Regions from separate parts of the Homo sapiens genome. Here region 1 is linked to region 2. The links come from fine-mapping of genetic effects on gene expression. A gene starts in region 2. The other region holds a variant in brackets. All regions are shown on one strand. Distances are between the middles of the regions.

Region 1 (4,386 bases), 570 kb before region 2:
TGAGTGGATGAATATCTATTTGGCCTTACCTATAATTTTGCCAATCTGAAGGGTGAAACATAATCTTATCGTTTTTATTTGAATTTTTGATTACTAGATGTTATCTTTTGAAAAGTTTATTGCCTTTTAAAAAGTCTTACATCTTCATCGCTTTTGCCCTTTTTTAAAATATTGGGTTAATTAGCTTTTTTCTTAATTTATAAGAACTCTTCATACATTCTGGGTCTTAATCTTTTATCTATTAGGCAGGTTACACGCATTTTCTCCTAGTCCATCATTTGTTTTAACTTCCTTTATAGTGTCTTTACATTTGCCTGAAATCCTTCTGAAATTTATTTTTATGTATAATGAGATCTGTGGATATAATTTACCTGACTTTAACGTTAAGAAAAACATTTTAAAGTAGAAACTTCAAAGAACCTCTGCTTTATATTTGTCTTTTATGGTTCTCATATTTTATAAATCAAATTTATGGTATTTTTAAGGAGACAGGACTATAAGAAAGGATTAAGAAGAAGCCTTGCCACACATCACATGGCCTGGGCGTTTTCATAGCTAAGTGAATGCTGCAAGCTATGCCAGCACTGAGCTTGTCAGACATGTGAGATTTTGGGCTCTAGCTCTTGGGCAGTTTCCAAGGTCCTTTGGGTCACCAATGAGGACTCCCATCTAAGAGAGGAGACACTCCAGTCTAAGTATCATGCAAGGCCAAAGGAATGCCCCAAATGAGAACAATATAATTGCCCCGAAGTATAATTCCTCTTGTACACAAACTCCAATCAATGTGATTTTATTTCTCTCTGTGTTTTCTGAAACTGTGAGCTTAAGTTTCAGTATGCTTAAGTTCAATAAAATTTGCTGAACAGATGCATGACTATGTTAAGTCAAGTCTTTAAGCTATTCATGATGGGGATAAATCAGAGAAAGTCAGCAGTGGACTGAAATGATAAAGGAGGGTGAAGTTGGTGGTTAATCAGAAGTAGGTTTTCCAATCAAGCCTCCCTCTTGGAAGAGATGCAAAAAGCTGCGGCAAGCATTACATTTTGATGTGTGTGTTGGGATAGAGGGGATTTCACTCGTGTAATGGAAGGGGTGGTGATGGAGGCAGATCCAAGTGCTACTCCGTTCTTGTTTATTTTGACGAATCACACTGCCATGGGTGAAGCACAGCAGCTTAAAAACCTGGGTGTACATGCATATTTATTAGATATATGACACCAAAACCCCTACAGTACTAAAGCTCTATAATCAGGGGGACAGAACCAATATCCAAGGCAGGTCTATGGAGCTTCAAAGTCTATATTCTTACACAGTTTTGGGCCCCATTTGGATACAGGACCACAGTGGGATGAAACTATCTTAATGCACCTATTCTCTCTCTCTCTTTTTTTTTTTTTTTTAGATGGAGTCCCATTTCTTCGCCCAGGCTGGAGTGCAATAGCGTGATCTCAGCTCACTGCAACCTCCGCCTGCTGGGTTCAAGCAATTCTCCTGCCTCAGCCTCCCAAGTACCTGGGATTACAGACATGTGCCACCATGCCTGGCTAATTTTTGTACTTTTAGTAGAGATGGGGTTTCACCATGTTGGCCAGGCTGGTCTTGAACTCCTGACCTCAAGTGATCCACCTGCCTCTTAGCCTCCCAAAGTGCTGGGATTACAGGCATGAGCCACTGCATCCAGCCAATGCACCTATTATCTCTATAACCACACACAGAAAGGAATTTAGGCCAGATGTGCTGGCTCATGCCTGTAATCTCAGAACTTTGGGAGGCCGAGGCAGGAGGATCCCTTGAGGCCAGGAGTTCAAGACCAGCCTGGGCAACAGAGTGAGACCCTGTGCAGTGCAATAGCGTGATCTCAGCTCACTTCAACTTTCGCCTCCTGGGCTCAAGTGATCTTCCCACCTCAGCCTCCTGAGTAGCTGGGACTATAGGTGCACACCAGCATGCCTGGCTAATTTTTGTATATATATATTTTTTGTAGAGATGAGGTTTTGCCATGTTGCTCAGGCTGGTTTGGAACCCCTGGCTTAGGCAATC[T/C]GCACACCTTGGCCTCCCAAAGTGCTGGAATTACAAGCATGAGCTACTGCACCCGGCCTAATTTTTTTTTTTTTTTAATTAGCCAGGCATGATGGCACATCCTTGTGGTCCCACCTACTCAGGAGGCTGAGACAAGAGGATCGCTTGAGTGCAGTAGTTTGAGGCTGCAGTGAGCTATGATCGTACCACTGCATTCCAGTCTGGGTGACAGAGTGAGACCCTGTCTCTAAAATAATTAGTTAATAATTAAAAATTTTAAACGAAATTAAAAAACATCTAGTTCAAATTTTGAATCAGGAAAAACTCTGAAAAATTCTAACCCAATAGAATGGAAATTACATAGTAATCACTATTATTCCCCTTAGTGGAATAATTTATTTTAAGGATCATAAAAATATTTATAGGGCTTTCATGAGCTCATCTCCAACCTTCGTTTCCCAAACTATTTTCCACCATTAAGCACCTTAACTTTCAATTCTATGATCACAAGGTTATAAAGAAACAACCTTTGTGGTTTGGGAAGAGCAATATAGTCCAACAGCAGCACCAAGAGTGGCTCTTTTCAGGCTCGATGCATAACTTCCACATCCTCACTCTGGAGAATACACTATCCAAGGCATAGAGAAAGCTTAAAAAACATGAAAGCATTGGGAGATATACCTAATGCTAGATGACGAGTTAGTGGGTGCGCGCATCAGCATGGCACATGTATACATATGTAACTAACCTGCACAATGTGCACATGTACCCTAAAACTTAAAGTATAATAATAAATTTAAAAAAAAAAAACGTGAAAGCAGTCCTGACCATCTATTTGTTCAGAGTTCTTACTTTGTGGGGGTTTTGGGTCTACCACCCATGTTTCACCCCAACTGTTTCAGAGAAGGGATCTCTCGGTGATAGAATCCAAGTCCAAAGCATGCAACACAGAATCACATGTGTGAGCTGATGTTGTTCACTCTCTTTATCCTAGTGATGGCTCTGAGAATGACCTTCTCAAATAAGATCACCAGGCTCCATCTGAAGCAGTTTTTCTAGCCTGGTATAATGTATTATTCTAGAGAGGTGGGAGGGCATAGTTAGATACTATAAGGTAAAAACACCTTCATTCTCCCCCTTTTGCCCCCATCAAGTTCAAAGTCAAAATGAGGCAACCTTTACTTTAAGGCAAAGGAACCCAATAGACTAGCATATGGGAATATTGACTTTCTCTGAGACAGAACCTCAAAGCAAGGACACACATTTTTAATATCCATGCTCGTGGGAGAGTTGTGGGGAGAGATGCTCCATTTCAAAAATTGACTGGGTCTCTCCCTATAGGTCAGACACAGCTTGGCCTTTGGGCTACTATCCTCTGGGGAAGTCGACACCTGCATATTGGCATGACCTGTAGGGAGAGCCAGGGACAGGAAGGAAGAATAGCTGAGGAACATCTCAAGCAGAGCCACACTTCAGTTGCCTGAATCAACAGGTGGGCTCCGGGAGGTAAAATCCACAAGGAGAGGTCTGTGAATTTTAAGGAAGGATTCAGGAGTGTTGCCATACGGAGCAAGAAAATTAAGTGAATCAATTAGAGGCTGCCAAGGCTACCAGGAGGAGGCAGGTAGAAGGAGATAGATATCTGGGAGGGCTTTGAAGACTAGAAACAGCCTCCTCCGGAGAGTCAATACTATTTTAGGAGACAAACAAGTGTGACTGTGGTTAAAGATAATCACAGTCAGATGCTGGCAAAGGTAGACAAACATTTCCAGGCCTCTGCTATTTAGGGTATAAAAGTCTGTGTGTGTATGCCAGGCAATGCTTGTGTTAAGAGCTTTGGCGGCAGAGGGTTTACATATGCAAATAAAAATAATACCCCACAAGAAAAGGCTGCTTCTGGAAGTGCTAACCCATCCCATGGTTTCAGGCACATGATGTGAAATTGCACTAGATTCCACTGTAGTAATTAAAAGACAAAACAAAAACAAAACAAAACAACAACAAAAAAAAAACCACGAAAACTGGAATTAACTGGGGCCAGCAGAGTAAGTGAGAAGAAACCAGGACTGAACACACAAACTAAGTACTCTTGGGAGAATCATTTAATCTCTCTAAGCCTCAGCTTTGTCATTTGTGAAACATATAGGCTGACTCCCAAAAGCTGAAGACCTAAGGATGCTACAGTCACACACCTGTTCATCGTTACCATGGATATTCCATTCCTATCCAGGTCTCTATGTCCTTCCTGGTGCCATTTTCTTTGCCTAACTTAGATGGAGTATATCCCTCCTGACCCTTTAAGACCCAGCCCTGTGTCACTTTTCCACAAGGCCTCCCCTGAACACATTCCCCTCACTCCTTTAGAAG
Region 2 (4,386 bases):
GCCTCATAATGAGTATTTCTGAATATCACTTAGCCCCCAGAACCACCTTTTCCCTAGATTCCACCTCTTTAGAATCCATGCTTTTGGGTGCTGGGCTGTGTGTGTATGAGAGAGAGAGAGAGAAGAAAGAAAATAGAATCCATGTCTCGGAAGAGGAAGGAGGGAAGGAAGGAGGAAGAAAGAAAAGGAAAGAAGGCTTAGACCTGGGAAGCAGAATAGAATGACAGGGCTCCCTCTGATTTCCCCAGACCCTGGCACCAGCTCCTGTCCTCCAGTTTTTTCCTCTGCACATCAACTAGAGAATGAACATATGAGCCAATCAAGTCTTGACTTCCAAAGCCACAAGTCTCCCCCGCAAAGCACCCCACCCCCTTCCCTAGAGATGACCTCCAGGGCAAGGTAACAGGGTTAGGAAACAGATGGATGTGCAGAGACCCTCCAGAGCTAACCTGACCCCTGACCCCCACCAGTTCATGTCCTCTAATCCAACTTTCCAGAAGGGAGAGCAGATGCATGGGGCCCCGGTAACTTACTGGACTCCTTGGGACAAAGATTCCAGACAAAACTGTTTCAGACATGTGGGGAGATGGGGAGCTACACACAGAAGCTGGTGGAAGCCACAGGTACAGGGAGACGGGGAATCCCTGGCCATCAGAGAAACAGGGCCACAGGTGGTGGAAGATAAGGGTGGTCAGTGCCGGTTCTAGGGAGGGACTGTGTAGCCAGGGAGCAGGAGGAGCAATGGACCCGGGACTTGGACGATGGCAGGGGCGCAAAGAGCTAGAAAGACATCTCAGGGCTCTACACCTCACAGCAAGCAGAGACTTAGTGGGTGTGTATGAGAGGGACGCTAACTCACACTTCCAGGAATGAGTAATTCTTATGAATAGCTCCTCCGTTCCCAGAACTGAAGAGGAGGACAAGGGGGAGGTCCGAGGCGCCCACCGCCCTCCCAGCTGGGTCTGCCTCTCAAGTCAGAGGGACCAGCTCCCCACACGCACCAGGCGAGACCGATGTCTTCCGCCCCACTCCTGTCAGTCTGCAGCCGGCGCGGCTCCGGGTCCCCGCCGCCCCTCTGTGCACATCAGGGCCCCGGGCCCCCGACGGCGAGGAGGGGTGCCGACCCAGGGCGGCCGCCGGGAGCCCCGCTGACAGGCACAGGGGAGGGGGAGCCAAGGGAGGGGCCGGGACGCCGGTAGCCGGAGCGGCGCGCTGCAAAGTGAGCCAACACCGCCCATCCCCGCGCTCTGGGAGAAGGCGGTCCGAGGGGACCGCCTCCCACCTCCCCAACACAGACTCCCGCAACTGGGGTGAAGGCGGAGGGGCGCGGAGTTCCCAGCCCCCACGCCCTCCCCAGACGCAGCCAGCACTGCCATAACAACCAGAATCTCGGCAACTCCAGCCCCGACGCCGAGGGGGCACTGCCCCCCAACACGCACGCGGCAGCAACAGCCCTCCTTCCCCAAACTTGTCCGAGACGCCGCGTCCGAGGCAGTAGCCTTCAGCCCTGGCCCCCCGCGCCCTGCCCGGCTTACCTGTCCGGAAAAAGGCGTCCACGTCCGAGTCTGCTGCTCCTCCTTCCTCCGCTGCTCCCTCAGGGGGGTTCATGACTGTGGGAGGGCGTCCGCGGGCAGCCGGGAGCCGAAGAAGCCTGGGGCCGAGGGCTGCTCGGCGCCCGGTGGGCGGAGGGCGCGGGGCGCAGCTGCTGCGGCCGCAGAGCTGGCGGCCGCGGAGCTTCGAGGGCGGGCGTTGGGCGGCGGGGCTGGGGCAGAGGACGCTGAGCCTCCCTCAGGCGGAGGCGCGCGGCGGGCTGGGGGTGCCTGCCGCCAGCTCCCCCATGGTACCCCTTCCCCAGGGCGCTGGCCGCCTGCTGTCTGGCTGGGGCCGGGGCCCGGGGCCGGGGTGCGGGCTGCCTGGGCGCCCGCTGTCCCCCAGCAGCGGCAGCTGGCTCTCCTGCTCGCCCGTCTGCCTGTCTCTATTGTTCAGCCCTGCTCCGCTCTCTCCTCTTTATTTTTCCTCCTCCCTCCCACCCTCCCTGTCTCCCTACCTCCTCCCTCCCTCGCTCACTCGCTCACTCGCTACCTCCCTCCTTCGCTCGCTCGCTCTCTAGCTCCCCCTCTGGCTCCCGCCGCCGCCGCCGCCGCAGCAGCCGCCTCCCCAGCTCCTCCCCCGGCTCCCGCTCCCTCAGTCCCGGCCAACAATGACCCCGGGAGCGCCGAGCTGAATTGAAGCTCCGGCCGGGGCCGAGGGCTCGCTGCGGGCCCCCGGCGGCGCCTACGCCCCCAGTCCCAGCGGCCCCGCGCCGGCCTCCCGGGGAGCGGAGCCCGAGTCCCGAGCTATTGTTCGAGGCTGTGCTAGGCCGGCTTCCTGAGCTCCGCAGGAAAAGCCCGGGCCAGGGAGGGGGCGGGGCCGCCGGGCGAGCCCGGGGCTGCAGGGCACACGCCAGGCTTGTCCAGGGGGCTCTGCGGCCCGGGCGCTGCGCGCTCAGCTTCTCCGCTCGCGCCGCCGGTGCTCCTCCCGGCCCCGCGGCCACCTCCTCCGTCCACTCCACTCCCAGGTGTGTGAGGGGACCACCAGGCTGCCCGCCCGCCTTCTCTGGATCTTCAGATCGGTCTCCAAGCTGGACTGACCTGTCCCTAGAGGCCGGCCTTTCTTCCCCTCCTTCCTGACGAGCTCTCTTCTGTCTCCCTGCCCTCCTGAGCCTCTCACATTTTCCTCACCAGCTCGCCACAGTTTCTCTCCTTTTTATCTTTTCTCGTCCTTTTCCCCTTTTCAGCGCCCCTTTAAACATCTCCGCCTGTCTCTGTGACTCTTTGTCCAGTTTAATGCTCCTGTGATGTCTCCCTGCCTATCTCTCCCTCCCTCCGTCACTCTCTTGTCCCTCGTTTGTCTCTGTCCTGCCTCCGTACTTGGCCCGTATCTCCGCGCTCCTCTTGGACAGCTGTCAAAACTCTCTAATCCCTGGGGCCTTCTCGGTTTTGTTCTCCCTCATGTGAATGGAGAGATCCAGTTGGCCAGGAGGAAGGAGGTGTTACAGCAAGCTGAATTTCAATTAAAGTGGGGAGAGGGGCTGGGGAGGAATGGGGATGGCTGCAAAAAAGAAAACAGATGCTGTATGGGGTAATTAATGCGGTGATTGTATTGTGCCCATCAGTTTTTAAGCAATAATTAAACAATAATTAGCCAGTAGTGTGTTTATGGTTCTAGTGACTACAGAGCCCACCAAACAGAGGGTCTTTAAGACCTGAGTACTTAATAAGGTCTGCTGAGCGCTGTTCGCTGTTGCCTCATCCAGACAGATGGAGAAGTGGTGGCCTGACCTAATGTGTTAAAACACGCCTAATAGGAAAACCAGGTACTGGTCTGAAGTTAATGACTGCAACCCATCAGACAGAATCTCCTGGATCTGTTTGTCTCTAGTAACCTGTTTGGTTCCACCTCTCTCTGGGGGCCAAGGCAACTGGGGCCTATGCAGATCCACCAACTGTGTAAACTTGTAGCAAATAAAATGAATTAAATTAGTTTTTAGTGAACACTTTCTGGCTCCCTGTACGCATCACGTTCTTCACTGACACAAACAGTCTAATTTTTTTTCACCCATTAAAAAAAAGTACCTGTTTCCAACCTTGGATACACCTATCAGACCTGTCTCCAACCTTGAGTACATCTATCAGACCTCTGTAGTGACTCTGACATCACAAGTTCACTGCCCTGAGATCTAATTCATCTGGCCCTAGTATCTTGAACTGGCTTAAGATGCCCCTTTGCCTATGCCTTTTCTGACAATGAAAATACTTCTCATTTGTCTTTTCAAAATCTTCCTTCCCCTTAATCCTTTGCCTAACCCCTGGTCTGCTCCCCTACCCCCGCACACACATATGTGATGGCAGAGCTGCTATTAATTAATTGCCACCATTGTGCAGCTAAAGAACCAGTGGCCTGGCAAGGCATTAGCTCATCACAATTCAGAAGAAACATTACATGTTTAGAGGAAGGGTCATATCAAAATCTCAAGATATAGACAAGAAAGGGGGAACACCTTATGTAATGACACAAACTTTTTTTGAGAGGAAATTTGGCAACTTCTATTAAAATGTTAAGTGTTCATGGCTATATTAATATCAAAGAAGACTTCAAAGCAAAGAATATTACCAGGGATAAAGAGGAACATTTCAATTCATCAAGCAGACGTAACAATCCTAAGAGTGTTTGCACCTAATAAGATAGCTTCAAAGTACATGAAGCAAAACTGATAGGATTGCAAGGAGAAATATAAAAATTTATAATTATAGTCAGATAATTTAATATCTGTAAAATGCAGTAATTAATAGAATAAGGAGACAGATCATCAGTAAAGATATGGAAGACTTGAACAATGTTATCAAC

Evidence for each region. PIP is the estimated chance that this variant, and not a neighbour inherited with it, causes the effect.
Region 1: its variant is the best candidate, but not a certain one, in a credible set for the expression of KALRN in nasal epithelium (TOPMed, PIP 0.88).

Annotation. Positions count from the first base shown.
Region 1 is chr3:124,602,586-124,606,971 of GRCh38, reverse strand. All of the region lies in intron 34 of KALRN (kalirin RhoGEF kinase), which reads right to left. Among named protein-coding and RNA genes, the nearest start is that of UMPS, 130 kb to the left of the region's middle. The variant T/C (reference allele first, on the strand shown) is at 2,041.
Region 2 is chr3:124,030,963-124,035,348 of GRCh38, reverse strand. KALRN (kalirin RhoGEF kinase) reads right to left here and starts at 1,980. Exons shown (of 60, transcript NM_001388419.1): 1 at 1,536-1,980. The coding sequence starts at 1,608. RefSeq lists a silencer at 2,005-2,464.